Linked DNA regions of Homo sapiens: all the other regions are reported to be linked to region 1. The links are microRNA targets in miRTarBase. Many come from high-throughput screens and were not tested one by one. Region 1 holds a microRNA gene; each other region holds the end of a gene's coding sequence.
The links. Region 1 holds the annotated microRNA hsa-miR-6785-5p (UGGGAGGGCGUGGAUGAUGGUG, at 1,735-1,756, opposite strand). A microRNA usually pairs through its seed, bases 2 to 8, with sites in the 3' UTR of a target mRNA and lowers its output. Matches are read on the target gene's strand: a 7mer-m8 pairs with bases 2 to 8, a 7mer-A1 pairs with bases 2 to 7 and ends in A, and an 8mer does both.

Region 2: the mRNA of STRIP2 is a reported target of hsa-miR-6785-5p. Seed matches in the 3' UTR shown: 7mer-A1 at 1,319-1,325 and 7mer-A1 at 1,183-1,189.
Region 3: the mRNA of FRRS1 is a reported target of hsa-miR-6785-5p. Seed matches in the 3' UTR shown: 7mer-A1 at 2,935-2,941.
Region 4: miRTarBase lists SNX12 as a target of hsa-miR-6785-5p. Seed matches in the 3' UTR shown: 7mer-m8 at 1,800-1,806 and 7mer-m8 at 1,508-1,514.

Annotation. Positions count from the first base shown.
Region 1 is chr17:75,497,188-75,500,308 of GRCh38, reverse strand. It overlaps MIR6785 (microRNA 6785), which reads right to left and starts at 1,761; the gene lies at 1,681-1,761. It overlaps TMEM94 (transmembrane protein 94), which reads right to left. Exons shown (of 32, transcript NM_014738.6): 26 at 3,111-3,121; 27 at 2,447-2,528; 28 at 1,986-2,134; 29 at 1,771-1,865; 30 at 1,587-1,680; 31 at 1,227-1,397; 32 at 1-1,047. The coding sequence ends at 975. CASKIN2 (CASK interacting protein 2) reads left to right here. Exons shown (of 20, transcript NM_020753.5): 20 at 1-48.
Region 2 is chr7:129,485,337-129,488,457 of GRCh38, reverse strand. STRIP2 (striatin interacting protein 2) reads right to left here. Exons shown (of 21, transcript NM_020704.3): 21 at 59-2,879. The coding sequence ends at 2,629. Among named protein-coding and RNA genes, the nearest start is that of SMKR1, 16 kb to the left of the region's middle.
Region 3 is chr1:99,706,471-99,709,591 of GRCh38, reverse strand. FRRS1 (ferric chelate reductase 1) reads left to right here. Exons shown (of 17, transcript NM_001361041.2): 16 at 333-394; 17 at 472-3,121. The coding sequence ends at 564. Among named protein-coding and RNA genes, the nearest start is that of FRRS1, 59 kb to the left of the region's middle.
Region 4 is chrX:71,058,445-71,061,444 of GRCh38, forward strand. SNX12 (sorting nexin 12) reads right to left here. Exons shown (of 4, transcript NM_013346.4): 4 at 803-2,674. The coding sequence ends at 2,572. Among named protein-coding and RNA genes, the nearest start is that of SNX12, 8.4 kb to the right of the region's middle.

The DNA of each region.
Region 1 (3,121 bases):
TTAACCTCTTCCCCCAACTAACACCAATGAAAACACCATTCCACGTGACTGGGCTGTGTGTTTGCCTCTGTGACATGGGGACCCCTGACCCTAGGGGTCTCGCCTGAGCCAGACCTGAGGGACCCACCCGCGTAGATGGAGGAAGGTTTAGGCCTCCCTTTGCCAGCCACCGCCGGGGGTGGGCAGACCCTGGAGTGGCCTTACAGACCAGCCACAGGTATTTCTTAGCAATTGACACATTTTAATACAAACCAGTCTACATTCATTCCTAAAAGGCTCATTTCCAGTAAAAAATATACACCAGTAGAAACTTCTCCCAGAACTGGGGCAGAGGCTGAGGAGACCTGGGCCAGATTCCCCAAGACTGACAGGCAGCCAGCTTGAGCCAGGCACAGGAAGAGGCTCCAGGGCGAAGCGGGGGCCCTGCTCCATCTTCAGGTTCAGGCGGGAGACTCCCCCACAGAGGGAGGGAGGGGAGGCACTCGGGGCCACATCCAGGCAAGCACCACCCCCCTGCCCTCCACGGCAGCCTTGGGAGTTGGACGCGTCGGCCAAGGCTGCTGCTGTTGCTCCTCCAAAGAAGGTTGGCTTCAAGGCCGTGTCCAGGGACCCACGAGCAGAGGCACTGGGGGGCAAGGGATCTCCAAGGGGGCAAGGGATCCCTAAAGGGGGTAGCTCACAGGTGAGGGGGTTTAGGGCCCCTCTAGGGAGCGCCTGAGGCCATACATTCAAGAGTGTCCCTGGTGAGGCCCAGGGAAGAGCCAGGACTGGCCAAGGGCCCAGGCCGTCAGCTCCTCCACAGTGAGCCCCAGGGCTCAGGAAGACAGCGGGGTCTGACACGGGGAGCTGGGTTTCCAGTGCCACGGGTGCAGGAGCAAACCTGGAAACATTCATGATACAAACTCCCCTGTTCAGAAATGGGTCTGGCTTTAGCCCCAGGGACGGGGGCAACTACAGCCACCACAGCCAGTGGCTCAGAAGGGAGAGTTCATGCCCAGCTTAGTTTCAAACTGCAGCTTCTGTCGCTTCTGGTAGCGGACTCGGACCCTGGTGGGGCAGGAGATTAAAGTACAGGTTGGCAAAGATCCTTAGACCAGGGGCCGGGGCAGGACACCAGAGGAGGAGGGAGGGATGGGCAGCGGAAAGGTGGGGGAGTGTCGCCAAGGGAGTAACAGGTTTAGGGAACATGCCTGAGCCCAGAGGGAGGCGCCCTGCTGACAGCTCACCGAATCTCATGTAGCTTCACGATCTCATTGGTCACCACCACAAGGACCAGGGACAGGCAGCCCAGGAGCCATGTCAGCAGGGGCACGTCCTCCAGGCCAAAGTGGACGTGGCTGTCCCTGTGTGTCCACAGCTGCAGGTCCACAGCCGTCTGGACCACCTGACCCAGCAGCCTGCAGGAGGTGGCGGCCCCGTGTGAACCCGACACTGCTTGCTTCCTTCCCTGCTCTTCCCAGTACAACAGTTAGCTCAGGCAGGGTACAGTTAAACCACTGGCCCCGGTCCCGCCCTCCGATCCTAGCCCTGCAGAAGGCCCTCTCCTCCCCAGCCCACACTCCGCCCTCCATCCTAGCAATACTCACACCACAGGCACTGTCACGGCCCACCAGAGGTTGGTCAAGGGGCTCTTTCTCCACAGGGGCTTGGTGCGATGCACATGGGTGATGGAAATGAAGACTGGGGAAGGTGGGGCGATGTGGGGGTCAGACTTCCACAGTGGGGCTCCTCTCCCACCATCATCCACGCCCTCCCAGGGAGCCCTCTCACCAGTGTGCAGGACAATCAGGGCGGCCGTGAGCTTCTGAGCCGACAGCAGTCCATTGGCAAAGTCCTCAAACCAGGCTGGAGCCCTGTCGTCGTTGCTGCCAAAGTGAGGCATGGGCTCAGCCCCTCTAGGGCCGCAGGGAGGTAGGCTGGGGTGGGGAGGGAGGAAGCCTCGAGGCGAGGCAGGCGATGGGTGGATCTCTGGGGCTGGGACCCACCTGGGCAGCATGACGGAGGAGCAGTTGGTGAGGTTGCGGTCCCGGGAGCTGTCACAGAAGCTCTGCAGTGTGAAGCCAAAGCAGATGAGGCAGGAGCTGATGGTGAGGCTGAACTTGAGCAGGAAGCAGAGCAGGAAGTAGTGCTGGGTCTGCGGGAACAAGGCCAGTCACTCCTGGGGCGCACAGCCCCTCTGCCGGCTGCTCCTAGCTCTTCCACGTATTCAACGGGCTCTTAGTAAATGGTCAGGCCTGGGGGGATAGGGAGCTCAAGCCCCAGCAAGGGTCTTTCCCAGCTCTGTGCCACTACCTCCTCTTTGATCTGGGGGAAGACTAGGAACCAAGTGCCGGAGTTCTGCTGGAATCCCCCATCCAGAGCCTTCCAGATTAGCCCCTCTCTCCTCCCCCAATCCTCAGTCCCTTCCATGCTCACTTGCAAGGCTCACAGGGTCTGTTTTGCTTACCTTCTTGGGAATGGACTGGAGGTTTTTCCCCGTTGCCATAGACATGATGGAGCTATGGGGGGGCTTCCCCAGCAGAGAGATGCTGAAAAGCAGAGATCAGGTAGAGGGATGGTGACAATGACCCTCTGTCCCTCAATTCTCATAGAGGGAACCTCTAGGGAGTCTTGCGCGTGAGGTCGAGTCTGGTGAGGGGATGGAATAAAACAAAGGCTGGACGGCAGTGGCTCACACCTGTAATCCCAGCACTTTGGGAGGCTGAGATGGGCAGATCATTTGAGGTCAGGAGTTCAAAACCAGCCTCGCCAACATGGCAAAAACCCATCTCTACTAAAAATACAAAAATTAGCCAGGCATGATAGTGGGTGCCTGTAATCCCAGCTACTCAGGGGGCTGAGGCAGGAGAATCACTTGAGCCCGGGAGGCGGAGGTTGCAATGAGCAGAGATTGCACCATTGCACTCCAGCCTGGGTGACAGAGCGAGACTCCATCTCAAAAAAAAAAAAAAAAAAAAAAAAAAAGACAAAGGGGGTTCCCTCCATGCCTCCTGTACCAGAGGAGGTGAGACCTGAGCAGTTCCAGAACCTTGGGCTCCTGGGGCTGCACAGTGACATCCAGACACCTCCTGCTTAGGCATGGGGTGTGGGGAAGATACATGGCATCTCACCTGAGCAGAGG
Region 2 (3,121 bases), not on the chromosome of region 1:
ATCCTTCCTTTCTATATGACTTTGAGTTTCTCTTGTGTTGAAGAATTTAAACACCAAATTTCTAATTCCAGCTCATTTTATTTTTATTAAAGTGCTTCAGTAGATGAACAGTGTTATCAACAATCAACACAAACTTTACTGAAATATTCACAAATAAAAATCCTCTGTAAGTCACTAAAATGTTTTTCTATGTAGTAAAAGTAATCACCATTGGAGACTGGTGAATTTGAATTTATTCCTAACCACATACATGGTTTATATATTAACTTTATTATATCCTTCTTTGTTTTTGAGACGGAGTTTCGTTCTTGTTGCCCAGGATGGAGTGCAGTGGCATGATCTCGGCTCACTGCAACCCATACATGGGTTCTCAAATTGGAAGATTCAACCTGGTTACCTTAATATATGGGGCTGGCTGTCAATACCTGAAAGCTAGTCCCAGCAAGTCTGTGGAAAAAAATGATGTGATTGGAAACTAATCATTTATCCTTAGTGCTTCAGTTTCTCCATCTGCACTGAGAAGTAACCTTCCCTTAGAAAAGGGTTGTAAATAAATACAAAATGTTAAAGCTTAGCATACTTCTGTGCCTCAAAAAGCATTCACGTACATGCTTTTAAAAGGGCAATTTCTTTGTTCTTGACATAAATTGAATACTATCTGGCTTTATAATAAATTGATGGATGATTACTCTTTCCTTGAAAATTATCTTTTTACTCAAATCATATTAAAATCATACTAGCCTGACTGTAGATTAATTTACAGGAGTTGTGCTCAGTAAATTATTTTGATTGCAGTAAGGACTACTGTCCTACTTAGGTAAAATTTACAAATTATTTTAAAAAGTTTCATCCATTACTTAACATTCTCCAAGACCTATCCATAGAGACAGAAATCCTGGTACTTTAAAGCACAAAGAGGCAAAATCCAAAATTTACTTGTTAGATTTTGGTATAGCTCCTTTGGATACTGTCAAGTATTTTATTCATGTCCTTGAAATGATACTGTGGTTGACGAGGGGCAGAGTAAATAAGCAAATTTTGACTATATCACCCAGCATAAAGTGACCTGGTGCCATCATAAAAAATTCAGTAGTGCCTAAGTTGGGGGAGAGGGGCAACATGTATAGTAAAAAAGCTTGAAGAGGCTGGGCATGGTGGCTCACACCTGTAATCCCAGCACCCTGGGAGGTGGAGGCGGGCGGATCACCTGAGGTCAGGAGTTTGAGGTCAGCCTGGCTAACATGGTGAAACCCTGTTTCTACTAAAAATACAAAAAATTAGCCAGGCATGGTGGTGCGTGCCTGTAATCCCAGCTCCTTGGGAGGCTGAGGCAGGAGAATCGCTTGAACCCGGGAGGCGGAGGTTGCAGTGAGCCGAGATCGTGCCATTGCACTCCAGCTTGGGCAACAAGAGCGAAACTCTGTCTCAAAAAAAAAAAAAAAAAAAAAAAAAAAAAAAAAAGCATATGATCCTAACTAAATCAGAAACTTTTTTAAAAACCTTGTTTATCTTGAGAAGTATGTGATTCTGCTGTAAAAGAGAAATATAAAGAGGCTGGTATATCAACTCTCACATTTTCAATGAAATGTGCAATACTTTTAAGTAGAGACAGTATTGCTAAATCTCCACATGACACTTTGAAACTGCTAGCAATAAACGGGAAAAAAATCATTAATCAACACTGCAGAAAAAGAAAAATGGTAAGCTGTGATGCTTTTACTTTTCAATTAGAAAAATATATTGATCACGACCACAAGTGGACATACCATCTGAATAAATAAAGCCTCCTGTAGTTAACTTGTCATTTAAAAAATGAATTAGATGAAAAGGATAATTTTCTGCAGTATGCTCAGCCATTTGAAGACTGGAGTCATTTAAGAAAAACATGAAACATCCTTAGAGAGGACCTAATTATTTCATATTGGTTGTGGCTCTTTAAAAATGGCAGAGCATTCCATGCCCTATACAGAGTACACAAGGAAATAATTTTCACATTGAATATAGATCTCTTACAGAATGAGGAAAAAAACACTTTACACAACACACTTTTCGATAACATGCAGTATTGAGGGAATAGTAAATCATCATCCTTCACAAAGAAGGTGCAGGTGCTCTAAAATAATCTTAGAGCTAATGATTTCAGAAAGAGGCTTCCAAATTTGAAATTTAAAATGCAAACTTAATTTCAAAGTTGGTTTTTCCAAATCTCTGATAAGTCCTAGGAATCCAGTGTGAGCAAGAAGAAAACTTTCTCCCTATTTTATGACTTGTACCTCCCACTATCTGTGATGAATGCCATGGGTCAAATGCCATAACAAATTTCCTCTTTTAGAGCCAGCAAAGTCTAGCCTGGTTGTAGCCAAGACTAAAGCAGGAAAAGGTCCTACCAAAGAGCTTGTCTAGAATTGATCCACCAAAAGATTTCCAAGGCCAACTGGGCACCCAACTGACCCCAGGGCAAGTTGATCATTTTATTGTGATTCAGGATCCCACCCTTGCACCATCTTTAGGCCCAAGAGCCCCCAGAAGAGCCCTGAACTGGTAACAGCGCCTGTATGGACAGGGTAGGCAGAGCACAGTTTATTGGAGCTGACCTCTATCTATTGATGCTTGTTGACAAGAACTTAGTCAGTGATTCTGGAGCAGCTCCTCCCAACAGATGGGCTGTGAAAACACCTCTCTCTCGAGCCAGAGCTCATATGAATAGTGGAAATCTTCAGGCAGATCCAACCTCTGCCCCAGTACGCTCTGCAAGCAGTTATCCACAGGTGAAAACTCAGAGTCCTGGGGTCTGTCATAGCGACGGCTGTTAAAAGCCTCAATGTTGGCCCTCAAGGTACATTCTTCTGCTTGGAAGTCCCATGGTCTGGCATCGATGTCTGTGTTGGAAAGAGAGGAAGAAGAAGACATACAATGCAAGACACTGCTCCTCTTATCACAGAGCATGGTCTATGGGATTCCAAAAATGGAACTGCTCAGAAATTCTTTTTTTTTTTTTTTTTGTAAAGAGCAATGTATGAAGTTAGTATACAGCATGCTGACACTTAGGTTTAAAAAATACACATATGCCCACATGCATAAGCTTGTATATGCAGAAATTATCTTTGGAAGGGTAGTCTAG
Region 3 (3,121 bases), not on the chromosome of region 1:
TATCAAAACATCATGTCATACACCATGAATATATACAATATTTTGTCAATCAAAAATAAAACCAAAGAGCTTAGATCGTTATGACTTTGAGGTGGTGTTTAATGACTAGAAGAAGGCATATTTTAAGTTATTTAACAAATGTGTGCTCTTGCCAGATTGTCCACATTTGTGAGAGGCTTAATTGTTCAGGAAGTCTGCAATAATTAGTAGTTTGGAGTGGGAGAATTTCTACCCTGGAAATTGGGGTGAACAGTACAAATCAGGTTTTTTTAAAAAATTTAATTTACCTGCATAACGCTGCCCTTAAAAACTTATGTTATTATTCTTGACAGTTGAAATATTGGATGATGACAGAATTCAGATCCTTCAGTCATTTACTGCAGTGGAAACAGAGGTAAGTCCTTTTCTTGTTCATTGACACAAACCTTAATGGTAATACTTTTTTTTTTCATATCTCAATTTTTCTTTCAGGGTCATGCTTTTAAAAAGGCAGTGTTGGCAATTTATGTCTGTGGGAATGTTACTTTTCTCATCATATTTTTATCTGCAATCAACCATCTATGAGCAAGCAAAGACCTTGGCTTTTGCAGGCCAAGTGATAATTATCATCAAACCAAAGAAACTTGAAGCCTGTCCTGACTGCCTGGAGCATATTTGTGAATTCTCACTTGGAAGACTGGGGTCATGTCTGTAGAGGAATTCTGAAGTCCAGCCTTTAGAGAACAACATTCAAGAGGGTCATATAGACTATAAATTAATGTCATGCCCTATATGTAATTCTGGGTCTTAAAGGAAAGATTGTACTTCAGGAGAAGTAACTCTCAAATATTTCATGCCAAGATTTTAAGAATGTTGGTATTTAAGAAAATAAATAGTGATTTGGAAAATCACAACAGATGTCACTAGGATAATAAAGAGATATATTACGATATATATATATATATATATATATATATATATATATATTTTTTTTTTTTTTTTTTTTTTTTTTTTTGAGACAGAGTCTTGCTCTGTCGCCCAGGCTGGAGTGCAGTGGTGCAATCTCGGCTCACTGCAAGCTCTGCCTCCTGGGTTCACACCATTCTCCTGCCTCAGCCTCCTGAGTAGCTGGGACTACAGGTGCCCGCCACCATGCCGGGCTAATTTTTTTTATATTTTTAGTAGAGACAGGGTTTCACCATTCACAGGATGGTCTCGATCTCCTGACCTTGTGATCTGCCTGCCTCAGCTTCCCAAAGTGCTGGGATTACAGGCGTGAGCCACCACGCCCAGCCTATGGTAAATATATTTTGAACTACAAAGGTGCTGTGGTACTTTAAAGAAAAACTATTTTTACTAGTTTATCTGAATGGTCTGTGGACTTTATTTAGAAACTGTTTTTCAGTTTAGTTTTTTGGACATATCCTTTGCTCAGTGTATTTTGTTACTTCTCTAGTAAAGGTAGAAGTGAAGCAGATGCCATTGTAGGTTTTACCAGCATTTAAATATATTATGAATTGCTTAGCAATGAAATGCAAGTATGCATCTTTTACTTAAAGATACTATTTATGTATTCAGCTACAGAGATGAAATAGCATTTTATGTGTTAATTGTTTTGGCTATAAAATTTAAGTCCTTACAGCATTTGGGGATTATACACTTGGATTTCAAAATTGATAAAACCCTTGTGAACATATCTAATAGATATTCTGTTTACTTGTAGAAATAATATAATGTGTCTGGTTCTGTTTTGTTAGACATTTTTTATGTTCTACTGAATCAGAATAGTCAGTGTTATATTCCTTATTTCAAGAATTCATCTATTTTATGGCTACATCTCATATGTGCTATGAGGACTTCTAGCCAGTGGGTGGCGCTGTAATACCGAAGTACTGCACTGCTTTGTTCCTGTTTCCTTGTGCTGATTCCTTTCTAGTATTTAGGTAACATTACCGGATGGCATTTCCCTTAAATTCCACCAACTCTTAATCTTTATTTTAAAAATGGCTACTTTTTTTGGGTGGTTGGGGTAAGGGTTAAAACCTTAAATTAGTAACCGCTGTTTATTTTCCAGTTTATTTGTTTTCTGTGATTATTTATAATAATTGATATTTGTTTTTACAAGTCCCCTGACCCTGTAATAATGAATGCAGCTATCTTAGGCAAAGCAAATAAATAAACTGGGCATTTTTAAAATAAAAAATTTAGGAAGTCATACTTTATTTCTTTAGGTATTCTTTCTGATTATGTTATAGTTTCTGCTTGGCCCGAGAACCTAATTTCTATATGGTGTGAATAATAGCCTCAGCTATGTAGCCTACATCTTTATTTTATTAATATTTTTCAAAAATTTTCTCATTATTTCTTTTTTATATTTTTATTTTTTGAATTTACTTAACCAACTTTCTACTAATAGCCTACATCTTTTACTGGGTAAAATAATGTGGAAGTTTAGTTTTTGTTCCTTTTATAGGTGTTTATCATAAGTGGCTTAGGGCTTAGATATGAACTTTCTGTGTTCATATTCTATATGTGCCATGCTACTTATAATCTAAATTTTCCTTTTGAAGGTCTTTATTAAAAAAATTTAGTATAGCAAATTAAGTGTGTACTAAAGTTATTTTCCTCCAGTTTTCTATACTAAGGAGCTTAAATGTTAATAAATTTCTCTTAAGTTATATTCTACATCTGACAAAGAAAAATTCTCTCTTTTTTTTTTTTGTGACAAAGTCTCACTCTGTTGTCTAGGCTGGAGTGCAGTGGTGCAATGTTGGCTCACTGCAGCCTCCACCTCCTGGGTTCAAGCGAGTCTTGTCTCAGTCTCCTGAATAGCTGGGACTACAGGTGTGCACCACCAGTCTCGGCTAATTTTTATATTTTTAGTAGAGACGGGGGTTTCACATTTTGGCCAGGCTGGTCCCAAACTCCTGGTCTAAAGTAATCCACCCGCCTCAGCCTCCCAAAGTGCTGGGATTACAGGCACGAGCCACTGTGCCCAGCTGAAAATTCTTTTAAGGGAAAGATGAGTCTTGATGTGTTTGGTCTTCAAATATGTGGGCTTGCTATATTTCGAGTGTTGAGGCTAAGATATTTTAACTTTTTCTTTTTCAGTGCTTCATATGTTGGCACTATTTTGGTCTTT
Region 4 (3,000 bases), not on the chromosome of region 1:
GCTAGTCTCAACCTCCTGGGCTCAAGCAATCCTCCTGCCTCAGCCTCCCAAAATGCTGGGATTACAGGCATGAGCCAACCACATTCAGCCTTAATTTGCTAATGTTTTGAACACATCACTTTCTGTACCTTCTTTCCATGTTGAGCTACATCAAAACTAGCTTTGATTTTCTAAATGACAAGACTGCTACCTCCCCTCATTCCAACCCTTGCCAAAACCCACTCTGTGTAGGGAAACCATTTCAGAGCTCACTGGTCAGATGAATATCCACCCACCAAAAGTTCTGAGAGTTCACCCACCTTTCTGCCTGTGTCAAATTTATTTGGGAAAAAAAACAGTGTCAGTTGAGATAAAAAGCCTATAGAAGAAATGTTTGTTGGTGTTGTGTGGGTGTGTCAGAGGATGAACACATGCATGTGTGTTTATGTACATGTATTACATATGCAGACACACACATACACACATACACACACACATATATAATAAATATATTCTGCCCAAATTAGCACAAACCCACAAGCTTAAAAACCAAATCTGCTAAATCTGACTCAAACAACAGGTACTGAGCCTACAGCTACTTCCTGCAAGCAGATGCATTACCTCTGTGACAAAGTCAGTTGTGAGTTGCAAAAAGGATAGGTAAATATCATTAAGATAAGTTAAGATTCTGCTTTCTAAAAAAATTTAAATGCAAAACATTACCTCAGGACACTGGCCACACTGTATGATTTCTGCATAATACCCAGCATATCCTAGACACTAAAGAATACTAAATTTACAACTTAAGCAGGAAAACAGAGGCTTGCTTCACAGTGGTTTAATATGAACAGAGTTGAATATGACATTGTCTGACAGAAGAATGAACAGTTTGCTGAATAAAAGCCCCGAGTCAGGATATATATACACAGCAGAAATGGGGCCTCAGACTCTCAGCACTTGTGCACAATGAAAGAGGAAATCGTTTTTAAAAAATGTCTATAACAGAGGATACAAATCAAAAAGGCAGCAACAACAACATTGGCGAGGTGGGAAAGGGAGCAGAGCCTCTCATTAGGGGCTGCTTAGCCCCTGGCGCAGGCTCAGCAGCTGGAGAGCTGTCTCAGGGAACTTCAACATTTAGATGGGTTCCAAATCCTATGTCAAAATACAATCCTAATCTCTCTGATCAGGGTCAGTCAGAATCAGCAATCCTTTTCCACAGTGCCCTGCATAGAAAACTCCAATCTTTCCATGATAGGGAGTCTAAGCAAAGAGCCCCCACCTCTCACCTGGCACCAAAGTTAACTTACTCTCACCCCACCACTTGGGACAGACGTTGGGCCCCAGCAAACAAACCACCCCCTCCAAGACAGAAACCAGGATAGTTGCCAGCCTCAAGAAGCTGCTTCAAATGTTAAGATTTAGGAAATCCATACCAAGCTGCTATCCATAGTTCAACTTCTGGGGAAAATGCTGGAGTTGCATGAGAAACAAGTGCAGGCAGTTCAATAACCCTGTGACCACGCTGGGGAGGGCAGCAAAAACTCTTGCCCCTGAGCCCCATTCAACAACTCAAAGTGCTTAGGAGAAGTCAGAGACTGTGTGGTTGGTTTGTGTGCTTCTGCCCTGTGGCAGCACTAAATGGGATGGGGGAAAGGAGAATGGAAGGAAGACAGTGTTGATGCCCTTCCCTACCGCGGGTAAGAGCCTAGAAGATAATCCACTCCCACCCTTCAGGGAGTTACCTGGCAGTGGTGAGTTGCCCCCACCCCTCAAGCCACCAAACCTGCAAAGCTAACCCATAAAGTAGCAAGGGCTTAGGGAGGGAGAACTGCTGGCCCATACTGACTCACCAGCTGATGAGCAAAAATAGGCAGCTAGAGTGGGAGCCACAAAGGGAGAGGGGCTAGGCAATAGGAGCTCCCCTACTGCCCTATGGCTTTCTTCTGACTCTGAAGCAGCCATAATGATGGGCCCAGAAAACCCACACACCCTGCTCCATACAACAGACTGCTTGGACTCTAGGAGGATTACTGCCATGGAAAGCAACAAGGGAGAGAGAAAGCAACAAAAGAAACTGTTAAGAAAACTGGGAGCAGGCCTGAAGAAAACAAGGAAAGCTTCTGAGTCTCTACCACCTTTCCAAAAAGGAAAAAATACATGCAGTTAGGAAAGGCAGGGTTTTTCCCTGCTCAGTGTTCTTGGTTAAACCTAAGAGTAAGAAAAATCCCCTGAACTTGCAGCATCAGTATGTATCCAAGTGCCTCACCAGCACAAGCGCCCCCCTCCCCCCAGGTTAGCCTTCTGGCATGGGTAAATGCCCAAGAAATTGCCTTCCAGTCTAATCCCCCCACCCACCCACCCCAACCCCAAGCAAAGGGCATCTGCCTGTGGGTTCCCACCTCTCCTCAGAGAAGAGGATCCTAGCAGAGTGCCCACATGGTGTAGTCAGGTACCAGGGAGCACAATGCCAGACAGTCTATCAGGCCAGGAGATGGGCAGCCAACTTCAGATCAAAGACAGAGAGAGGCTTAGTGTAAAAACCAATGTCATTTCAGCAGGAAAGTAGAGGGCAGGTGGTGAGAGGGGCTCCTACTGGCGCACCTTCCCCGGGACGTAGTTCCTGTCAATTGCCTCCTCTTGCAGGAACATGTGTAGGCAGCGTTCATTCTGAGCCAGTGGGTGCCCAGCAATTCTATAAAGAAACCAGGATGGTTATCAGTAGTATTCAGAATCAGAGAGAATTAGCAGAGGGATGGGGATGTGGACAGGGGAAGAAGGGCAAGGTCAGCCCTGAGGTTCAAGCCAGTAGAGGACAGCAGTAGGGTACCACCTCAACCCTAATATTGTAAAGGGGACGGGGGATAGAGGGGCAAGACAGGGAAATCCCTAGATATAACCAACATGCAGTGCTTTCTCAGGCCCTGACACACAGGATCAGAATCCTACTCAAAGGAATGGAGTTTTACTGTCCAGTCAGCCCACCACACAATTGGCACCACATCATGGTACCCATTATAA